2 linked regions of the Homo sapiens genome follow. The protein of the gene in region 2 interacts with the protein of the main gene of each other region in a pairwise test. Each region holds a gene or a part of one and is shown on either strand. Other genes may lie near its edges.

Evidence for each region. Proteins that work in one complex are often made in the same cells at the same time.
Region 1: the proteins of ZNF587 (region 2) and PBX2 interact in binary tests that used the Homo sapiens proteins (3 or more experiments, as listed by UniProt).

The regions. Positions count from the first base shown.
Region 1 is NC_000006.12:32,184,233-32,187,241, forward strand, and holds the end of PBX2 (pre-B-cell leukemia transcription factor 2), read right to left. Parts: intron 2,670-3,009; coding exon 2,581-2,669; intron 2,459-2,580; coding exon 2,372-2,458; intron 2,243-2,371; coding exon 2,150-2,242; 3' UTR 501-2,149; downstream 1-500. UniProt on the Homo sapiens protein: Transcriptional activator that binds the sequence 5'-ATCAATCAA-3'. Activates transcription of PF4 in complex with MEIS1.
Region 2 is NC_000019.10:57,845,765-57,852,859, reverse strand, and holds the start of ZNF587 (zinc finger protein 587), read right to left. Parts: upstream 3,002-7,095; 5' UTR 2,822-3,001; coding exon 2,789-2,821; intron 2,546-2,788; exon of another isoform or gene 2,299-2,545; intron 1-2,298. UniProt on the Homo sapiens protein: May be involved in transcriptional regulation.

The DNA of each region.
Region 1 (3,009 bases), on a different chromosome or scaffold from region 2:
TCCAGGGTCCTGGCTCTGTCTGCCCCTCTCCCTGCTGTGGCCTCCGCCCTAGGTGGGGCCTGCACCCTCTCTCCAGCCCCCATCTTTCAGTCGTCTTGTCACAGGGAATGCTAGGAATTCATGCCTTTGGGACAAGAGTCCTTCAGGTACTAGAGAAATAATTATCACCCCACCCCTGGGTACTACCAGCCTCTGGGTACAGTCACTTCCCTGGGGGATGGGGAGTGTACCCTCTAGGGTCTCATTCCCTCAGAGCCCCCGATCCTATTTATTCCATCAGTCCATCAGGGCTGCCTGGTGACCCACTGGAGCCCCATCTTGATTGCGCAAAGTTGCATCAATAGGGTTCAGGCCAGACTGTTGTCTGCAAGGGTGCAATTGGGCCTGCATCATGAAGGCAAGGCTGGGGAACAGGAGAGAAACCTGTTTGGAACTTCGTGAAAGAAAATCATTTTTTTTCTGGGGTTTCTCATGTTTTTTGAAAAAAATTCTCAACTAAACCCAGGGAAAAAAGAAATTTCTTTATTTAAAACTGCATTTTGTTTTTTTTCTGTGAAACTACACAAGTTTACAAGTGAGGAGAGAACTGCCCCCGGCCCATGCCTCCCACCCCCCCACCCATCACACTTCCAACCTGTCCCCAGTCCTGCCCGGATCTTTAATGGGAGGGGTTCCCCACTCTGACAGTCTTGTAAAATCCTGAGAATGTCTGAGGGGATCAGATGGTAGCTAGTTCAGGGCTGAGGATGGGACAGTGTTGATGTTACTTTTCCCCCACATCTGGCTTTTTGCAACCTCCTCCCTCTCCCTACCCCTTGATTTTGGTGTGACAAAAAGATACCTCATTTATGGGGAAATTGAGGAAGATACATATACAAGCACCCCAACCCATATTTAACATATTTGGCAATAACTCCCTTCCCATTCTTCCCCCTCCAATTTTCAAATAGTAGTTTTTTAAAAAATTAAAGACATGTCACTCACAGGGGAAGATGGCATCTTCAATTTCCTCAAAATTACTGAGTCCAGCCCTGCCCAAGGGTTGTGGGAAGAAGGGGGATGAGAGGCCAGCAGGGCAAGCCCTTCACTGCCTCCACATCAAATGCGGCAGAAACCTGCCTGCATGAACAAAGAACACCTAAGGGATTTTAGGGGGCAAAGCTTGGTGCCCTGTAAAATTTACTTCCTGATGGACAGGCCTGGAGCCAGGGGGGCCTCTTTACCAGTTCTGTTTGTCCCCCTTTCTCTTACCAGAACCCCTTTGGCTATCACCCCTAATATGGGAAAGTAAGAAATAAAAAAAAAAAAAGACAAGAAATCAACATATTTATAAAAAAAAAAACAAGCTACTTCCCCAAACTAAATTAAAAATTAAGAACCACCACCACCACCACCACCAACAACAACAAAAACAACAACAACAACAAAAAAAACAGATGGATCCCAGGGTTTCTTTTTCTTTCTTTAAAAAAAAAAAAGTTCAACCCCAAAGCCCAGTCAATAATTCCCTAAAGTAGCAGAAACTCCCTCCGAGGTAGATATCTGAGTCAGACACTCTCGTCCACCGAGCGATTCTATTGGTTTAAGATGAGCTGCGTATGAGGTAAGTAAGCCGTCCGGAGGGGCGGGGGTGGGGATGCATGGGGGCGTGGCCCATGTCCTCTGTCCAGAAGTCATGTCCCCATTTTTGGCATCTCTGATTGGGCAGGGCTGGCGTCTCCACAGATTCCAGAGCATACAAGTGGGGTGGGGAAGGGAAAGTGGGGGAGCCCAGGAGAGAAACAGAATAGTTGCAAGTGGGAGTATGTGTGTGTGAGGTGTGGGAGAGGGAGAGAGAAAGACAGAGGAGAAAAAGGGGTCTGAGAAATAGGTTTCTCGGTATGTGTATGTTTCTGTGTAAGAAAGAAAGCGAGAGAGGAAAAAGATGGAAAAAAGGGAGAGACAGACCCCACACTCCCCTTAGAGGCCCCATTCTTCCTGCCATGTAATTAGCACCCCCAGCACAGAGAGTCTCGTTAGGGAGGGGATGACCCCATTGGCCCTTCTCTGTCTTGTGCTTCTCCTGTATTGGGGTTTGTCCTCTGGAAGCCTGCGTCCTCTTCAAGTCGCCTTGTGAGAGCCCCCACCCCTGTGACCCTGAGGGGCAAGATCAGTTGGAGGTATCAGAGTGAACACTCCCTGGTCCCTCCGTTGGGGATGTCACTGAAGAGGGGGTCACAGCCTCTTGCCAGCTGCCATTTGCCTGAAAGGAGAGACAGAGTACAGAAAACAGAGAAAGCCCTGGGAACCCTGTGTGGGCACAACATTACTAGGGAAAATGCCCCTCTGTCCTGTGAGAACTGGACAGAGAGGAGCTTCAGGATCCACTCACCCTCATTTCCCGTGGGCTGTACATCTGGCCTCCCCCGAGGTTATCCCCATAGCCCCCTGGCCCCATCGAGTGTCGGAGTGATTCCACCTGCAGGCAGCAGAGGAAGGTATGACAGTGAAGAGAAGCCTCAGAGGAAAGAGGTCTTGTATCCTAAAGTAGAGGAAATGGAGTTGGGGAAAGCCCTATTCGAGAGGAGATGGGCATCTGACCTGGGAAGCAGAATAGGAATCTCCGTTGAGCCCAGGCATCCCCAGAAACATGTCTCCAGATCCTGAGAGATTGAAAGAGCCGCCAGAGCCTTGTGGGGGCAGAGAGGGAAGAGTGTAATAGAGCCCGTGATGGTAGAGGATGAACCACAACTCTCAACTCTTGTGGGGACATGCTACTATACTCCAATTATCCACAAAATAACATTCCAACACACAGAAAGAGCAGGCTGTTCCTTGGCCACCCGTGGGAAGAAAGGCAGAACTAAGATCACTGGAATGGCCTCTGTCCCCTGACATCTCCAGCCTATCTCAGCTCGGTCCCTCTCACCCCAAAAGGCCCCCTCTCTGCTATGATCCTGCCTAGATAGGAAGTGGGAACAAAAGCAGGAAGTGTGCAAAACAGTCAGCCGGGGTGACAGTGGGATCCAC
Region 2 (7,095 bases):
AAAAAAAAAAAAAAAAAAAGCCTAGCTGTCTCGGCTGGGCGCATTGGTCCATGCCTATAATCCCAGCACTTTGGGAGGCCGAGATGTGACGATCACTTGAGGTCAGGAGTTCGAGACCAGCCTGGCCAACATGGTAAAACCTCGTCTCTACTAAAAATACAAAAATTAGCTGGGCATGATGGTGGGTGCCTGTAATGCCAGCTACCTTGAATGCTGAGGCAGGAGAATTGCTTGAACCTGGGAGGCAGAGGCTCCAGTGAGCCCAAGATTGCGCCATTGCACTCCAGCCTGGGCAACAAGACTGAAATTCCACGTTAAGAAAAAAAAAAGAAAACCTAGCTGTCTCTTTACAAAAAGTGAATCCTGAATCCAGACCCATGTGATTTACCACTTATCTGATCCATTAACCCTCACCTGGATTATGGCAGGAGCCTTATCTCTGACCTTTCTTCCTCTTCCCTCAACCCACAGTCTATGCAACAAGGTCCAGCCAGATGAAGCCTGTAGCCAGGTAGAACTGTGGTAATATCACCTCCTGACTTTGATCCGTTTTATCTCTAAGCATTTCACAACCTGGTAGCAAATCCTGGGTTAATCTTACAAGGGTGTTTACATTGGTTGACAGAAATGGGAATACCTCCATATAACCTGTCATGGACTTGGTATCCTGGCTTCAGAGATTCTCCAGGGTCCTCGGATCAAAGGACTGAAAAAAATGGCACTTAAGAGTCCCAGGACACCACAAGCTAGAGAACCTGTAGATGGCGTCAGGACCAATGAGGGAATGGAACACCCTCCACTTCCCTGTGTGGGTTCCCTAAGTGCTTCTGCAGCCAGGAGTGCCTGAGGGGAAAGGCAGACATTACAAACATGTCACAGGATTTGATAAGCTCAGGACTCCCTGAACCCTTTCTTGTCCCTGGAACCAGGTAACCCTAAGGCTGGTTGTCTGACCTGCTTTTCTCAGTGCAAAATGTCATCTCTACCATCTATGTGATCTACAAAACGGATTCAACCTCCCAAGGCCCCAAAGTCCTCATCCTCTCTCTCTATGATGTTCTTCCTTTGATTGGCCTTTGGGAAACTTCTTAAAAGCCTGGATTTGGATCATGTCCCTCCTTTCTTCAAAACTCTCCATGGCTTCTAGAATCCTCATGATGAATGCACAGCCCCTGGCCTGCTTGCTCTACCAGGAAGAGCTCCATCTCACACGTTGTTCCTGACAGATGCCTGTGAACCCCAGGTTCCATCCTTCCAGCTCTGTCCATCTGCAGGCCATTGCCTGCACCCCTACCTGTGCCTGTCACTCTCCCCACTGCATCCCACTGGTGTCAGAAACAGGTGAAACCGACTTTGCAAAATTATAACTGACGAAATTATGACAGTGAAAGAAATCAGACCTAACCGACTCCATCTTGCTTCCAACCTTTCAGCCGTCTTTTTTCATTCCTGGGCATAGGCTGAATTAACTTTGGAAAAGAATTCAGTTCATGGTTTCACTCTGAAACAAAATTGATAATAGCCCTTTCCTGAAAAGACCCCTTTCTTGCCTGGGGACCAGCCTGTCTTTGCAGGACTAACAAATTAGCTACAAGAATAGAAATTACGGTTTAGGGGTCATGCAGCTTCTGGCTCCAAGAGTCTGAACCTCCCCAAGTTGCTCCTGAAGATAACCTTACTATTGTAAAACCTAATGTGAGTTTCTGGGGTGCTAGTTGAGTTGGTCTCCCCTGTGTGAGACACCCATGGGAAGCCATGGGCGGCCTCTGAGGAGAAAAGTCTCCTTATTGCCTTCATGTCTTTATGCCCCGAGAGCATAACTCTTCAGCAGCATTCCATGGGTTGCTCAGGGAGATCACACTCCCTTGAAGCAGTGGAGCATAATCAAACATCTTGGCTCCTCCTGAAACCCGCAGCCACCCGTTTCAGTTAAGTTAAAGATCTTAAGTAGTTTAGACACACGCCTTTGTTCAAGGAAATTCACAGAAACGGCCAGTGCTTTACATCTTATGGAATGACTCACGAGTTCTCCTTTACTGATTAATCCTTTTCCTGATCGCTTCCTCCCCCTCCAATCAGCCATAAGAACAAAGAGCTTGTAAACCAATAAACTGGGTGGAGCCCAAGAGCTCTGGGCCGCCAGGAAGCCTCCAATGCTCTGGCCACCTGGACCCGCCTTTTAAATGCGTATTCTGTCTCTTTCTAACTCCTTTGTCTCCGCAGGACTCGGGGTATCTGCTGGGTGGTGTGGGGCTGGTTTCCCCAATATCTAAGATCAGTGCTTGGGGCATTTTGCAGATCCTGCACTGGATGGATCAGCGGACAACACACAGACCGGTAATCTGGGTCAATCAGTTCTGCCATCCCACCCAGAACAGAAAACAGCATGAAAAACTCACTTTAACCCCCTATGAATCCATCTCCAACCAGACTGATCAGCACTCCCCACTTCCCAAGCCCCTACCCGCCAAATTTTGAAAACTCTGATCCCAGAATGCTCAGGGAGACTGATTTGAATAATAAAACTCCTGTCTCCCGAACAGCAGGACGGCTCTGCGTGAATTACTATTTCTCCATCGCAATTCCCCAGTCTTCATAAATCGGCTCTGTCTAGGCAGCTGGCAACGTGAACCCACTGGACGGTTACAAGGAGAGGCCTCCTGTGAGCGCCTCAGTGTTCCTACGCCGGGTACCGGCTACAGACCCACGAGCAGGAGCCGCTCCCTCGCTGGTTTAGGACCTGGGTGACGATGGGGTGACCTGAGGGCACAGAAGGCACCACAATTACCTGAGTTGGGCGCCTCGGCACAGCCGCTGCCATCGGACTACTTGGGGAAGCACGGCCCGGGAGCAGTGGTCGCCGTCACGGGGCTGCAGAGCCGCCTCTGGGCACCGAGGACGATTCCTCTCCACCTTCTAGGTTCAGTCACCGCGGTCCCACCCAGCACTCAGGGGCCACAAACTGGGGAAACACCCGCATCGCCGATACACAGCCGCTACTAGAGACCCCGGAAGTCTCGGCCTTACGTTACGTGCACACGTGGAAATGCCTTCTTTCCGAGTGCTCACTGGCTCTGACCGGCTGTCGTTTAAAGCAGAGCTTTCTGGGTAATGTAGTTCCCCACTTTCCATGACACAACATGGTTACCAGGTTCTGAAATGTTCATGGCTCAGATGCACCTCCAAGCCTTTGTACCTATTGGTTCCTCTACCTGTATTACTCTAGCTGGGGTGAAGCCTGTAATACACAGCATTTACCTGAGCTAGGTCCCTCAGTGTGGCTGCTGCCATCAACTGTGGGTGGAGCAGGCATCACCCCAGCCAGTGCCTATGAGCCTCAGACCTGCCACTTGGGAGCAGAGATGACTACTCCTCTTGTGCCTTCTCAGTCCCAACCCAGTACTCCCTGGCCTGACAAGCATGCCCAGAAATCCCTCATCCTGGGCCTTGCAACTAGCGCCTTCTGGGTAAAGTACTTCCCAGAGCTCTCAGCCAACAATGGTGGTATCCTCCAAGAGCAAACCGAATGCAGACCATGTTACATTCTGAGGGCTGCTGGAAAGCCCTGCTCACACCTCAAAGGAGGAAGATTATTGATTCTTTGTAAAAGCATCAAATAGGTATCACATCAGACTCTAGGAAGCTCATCCTGCACCCAGAGAATAAAAATACTATTTGAGATGCTCCCAAACTTTACTTATCTAAGTGGCCATATCATTGGCATCATTCAGACTTACAATGTGTGCACTCAGAGCTGAGAACATTAAGTATTGATTGCTCTTTAAATTCACGTAGACTGAATCATTACAGTCAGTTTTGCGAGTTTCATTGTTTTGTTGGGAACAAAAGAAAATTCTCCATAAGACATGATGACAGGATGGGTACAAAAAACAGTGAGCAAAAATGAATAAGACCTAATATTTGCTACCATAACAGGGTGGCTATAGTCAAAATAATTTAATTATATATTTAAAAATAACTAAAAGAGTATAACTGGACTGTTTATAATACAGAGGATAAATGTTGAGGTGACTGAGACCCCATTTACCCTATGTGATTATCACATATGGCATGGCTACATCAAAATATCTAATGTAATCTACAAATATATACACTACTATATACCCACAAAAAATAAAAATAAAGGCCAGACATGGTGGCTCACACCTGTAATCCCAGCACTTTGGGAGGCCAAGGCAGGTGGATCACCTGAGGTCGGGAGTTCGAGACCAGCCTGGCCAACATGGAGAAACCGTGTCTCTACTGAAAGTACAAAATTTTCCAGGCATGGTGCTGCATGCCTCCAATTCCAGCTACTCGGGAGGCTGAGGTAGGAGAATTACTTGAACCCTGGAGGTGGAGGTTGCGATGAGTCGAGATCATGCCATTGCACTCCAGCCTGGGCAACAGGAGTGAGACTCTGTCTCAAAAAAAATAAAAAATAAAAAATAAATAAATTGCTGGGTGCAGTGGCTCATGCCTATAATCCCAACACTTTGGGAGGCTGAGTCAGGTGGATCATGAGGTCAGGAGTTCGAGACCAGCCTGACCAATATGGTGAAACCCCATCTCTAATAAAAATAAAAAAATTAGCCGGGCACGGTTGCTCACGCCTGTAATCCCAGCACTTTGGGAGGCCGAGGTGGACAGATCATGAAGTCAGGAGATCAAGACCATCCTGGCTAACACAGCAAAACCCATGTTAAAAAAATTGCTGGGCATGGTGGCAGACACCTGTAGTCCCAGCTACTCGGGAGGCTGAGGCAGGAGAATCGCCTGAACTCTGGAGGCAGAGGTTGCAATGAGCTGAGATCGCATGACTGCACTCCAGCCTGGCGACAGAGCTAGACTCCGTCTCAAAAAAATAAAATAATAATAAAGATCTAATGACAGGGAAATAGACGGATGTTGGTACACCCTGAAGCAGGTAGTGAAGCTGGCAGTTGGCCACTGGTTCCCACAGAAAATTGCTCTAGTGATGCTAGCAAATCCCAAAATTGGGGCTCAATCCAGGAGGGTTCCTGGCTTCATAAAGGAAATAATTCAAGAGCAAGCCAAGAGTGTAAAGTGAAGGCAAAGCAAGTTTATGAGAGCAAGAGAACAGGAAAATGGCTGCTCCACAGACAGAGCAGGGCTACTCCACAGGCAAAGTAGCACCCGTGGATTGTTGGCTAGCTATATTTATAGCTACTCCTTAATTATGTGCTAAATAAGAGGTGGGTTATTCATGAATTTTCTAGAAAAAGAGTGGGGAGTTCCCAGAACCAGGGGTTCCTTCTCTTTTAAACTACATGAGGTAGCTTCTGGGCATTGCCATAGCATTTGTAAACGGCCATGGTGCTGGTGGGAGTGTCTTTTAGCATGCTAATACATTATAATGAGCATATAATGAGCAGTGAGGCAATGAGGGTAACTAGAGTTCATATTCTTGCCATCTTAGTTTTACTGCTTTCAGCTGGTTTCTTTAGTGCATCCTGTTTTGACCAGATCCTGTTTCATCATGAGCAGGGTCATGACCAGTGCTCAGAACACAAGTCCTGCTGATCTATGTCACTATGAGGATCACTATGTCAATATGTTTCTTAATTCATATGCTAAGGTGTACTCAATTTCTTTAATCACATTGACATCTATCTCAAAGGACGAGCAACTTAGCCAATGCCATTGTGGTACACACATCAGTCGCTACAACTTTCACCATTAAAGCACAGGTTAAAAAGGCCATCTGAATAACAATATAAACACGGCATCTGAGCTCCAAAATTTCATCTCCTTACAAGAAAGTGGTTATTATTTTCCAGTGACTGCAGGAATAGTTTCACACTGGGAACTGGGATTATCTCAGAATAAATTTTTTTTTTTCTTTTTTGAAACAGAGTCTCACTCTGTTGCGCAGGCTGGAGTGCAGTGGTGTGATCTCAGCTCACTGTAACCTCTGCCTCCTGGGTTCAAGTGATTCTCCTGCCTCAGCCTCCTGAGTGAGTAGCTGGGATTACAGGCATGCGCCACCATGCCTGGCTAATTTCTGTATTTTTAGTACAGATGGGGATTCACCATGTTGGCCAGCCTGGTCTCAAACTCCTGACCTCAAGTGATCCACCCACCTGCGCTTCCCAAAGTGCTGGGATTATAGGCGTGAGCCATCGTGCCTGGCCTCAGAATCAATTACAGGTGCGGTGGCTCATGGCTCAGGCCTGTAATCTGAGCACTTTTGTAGGCCAATGCAGGCAGATCACTTGAGGCCCAGAGTTTGAGATGAACCCGGTAACACAGTGAAACCCCATCTCTACTAAAAATACAAAAAACAGCTGGGCATGATGGCTTACGCATGTAATCCCAGCTACGTGGGAGGCTGAGGTGGGAGACTCACTTGAACCTGGGAGGTGGAGGTTGCAATGAGCCAAAATCACACCACTGCACTCCAACCTGGTAGAGAGTCTTGAAAAAAAAAAAAAAAAAAAGTATGCAGCAACTAAAATATCCATAAATGGATGGATGAATGAATGAATATACAATGACATTTCACGGCAGACTATACTTCTCAGCAACATAAAACGAATGAACAACTCATATATCTACAATGACATCAAAATAAGCATGATGCAGGAGAGCACCCAGGGATTATAAGAGGAAACACTTTATTACATCAGTCAGAAAATTCCAGAAAATGGAAAGTACTCCATCATACAGCAAAGTAAATCAATGGTTGTTTGAAGAGCAGAGAGAAAAACTTTATAAAGGCTCCAAGTAAATACAAAGGTGATAGATTAGATAAATTCATTATGGTGACTCTGATGATGGTTTCACGGGATTATAATAAAATTCAAGACTTATCCTACAGCTCAAATATGTGTACTTTATTGGATGTCATTTATATCTTTATTTTATTTTTAAGATGGGGTCTCACTCTATCACCCAGGCTGGACTGCAGCGTTGCAATCTTAGCTCACTGCAACTTCTGCCTCCCAGGCTCAAGCAATCCTCCCACATCACTAAGACTAAGGTACATGCCACCATACCTGGCTATTTTTCCTAGAGACAAGGTTTTGCCATGTTCCCCACACTGGTCTCAAGGAATCTGGCCTCCCAAAGTGC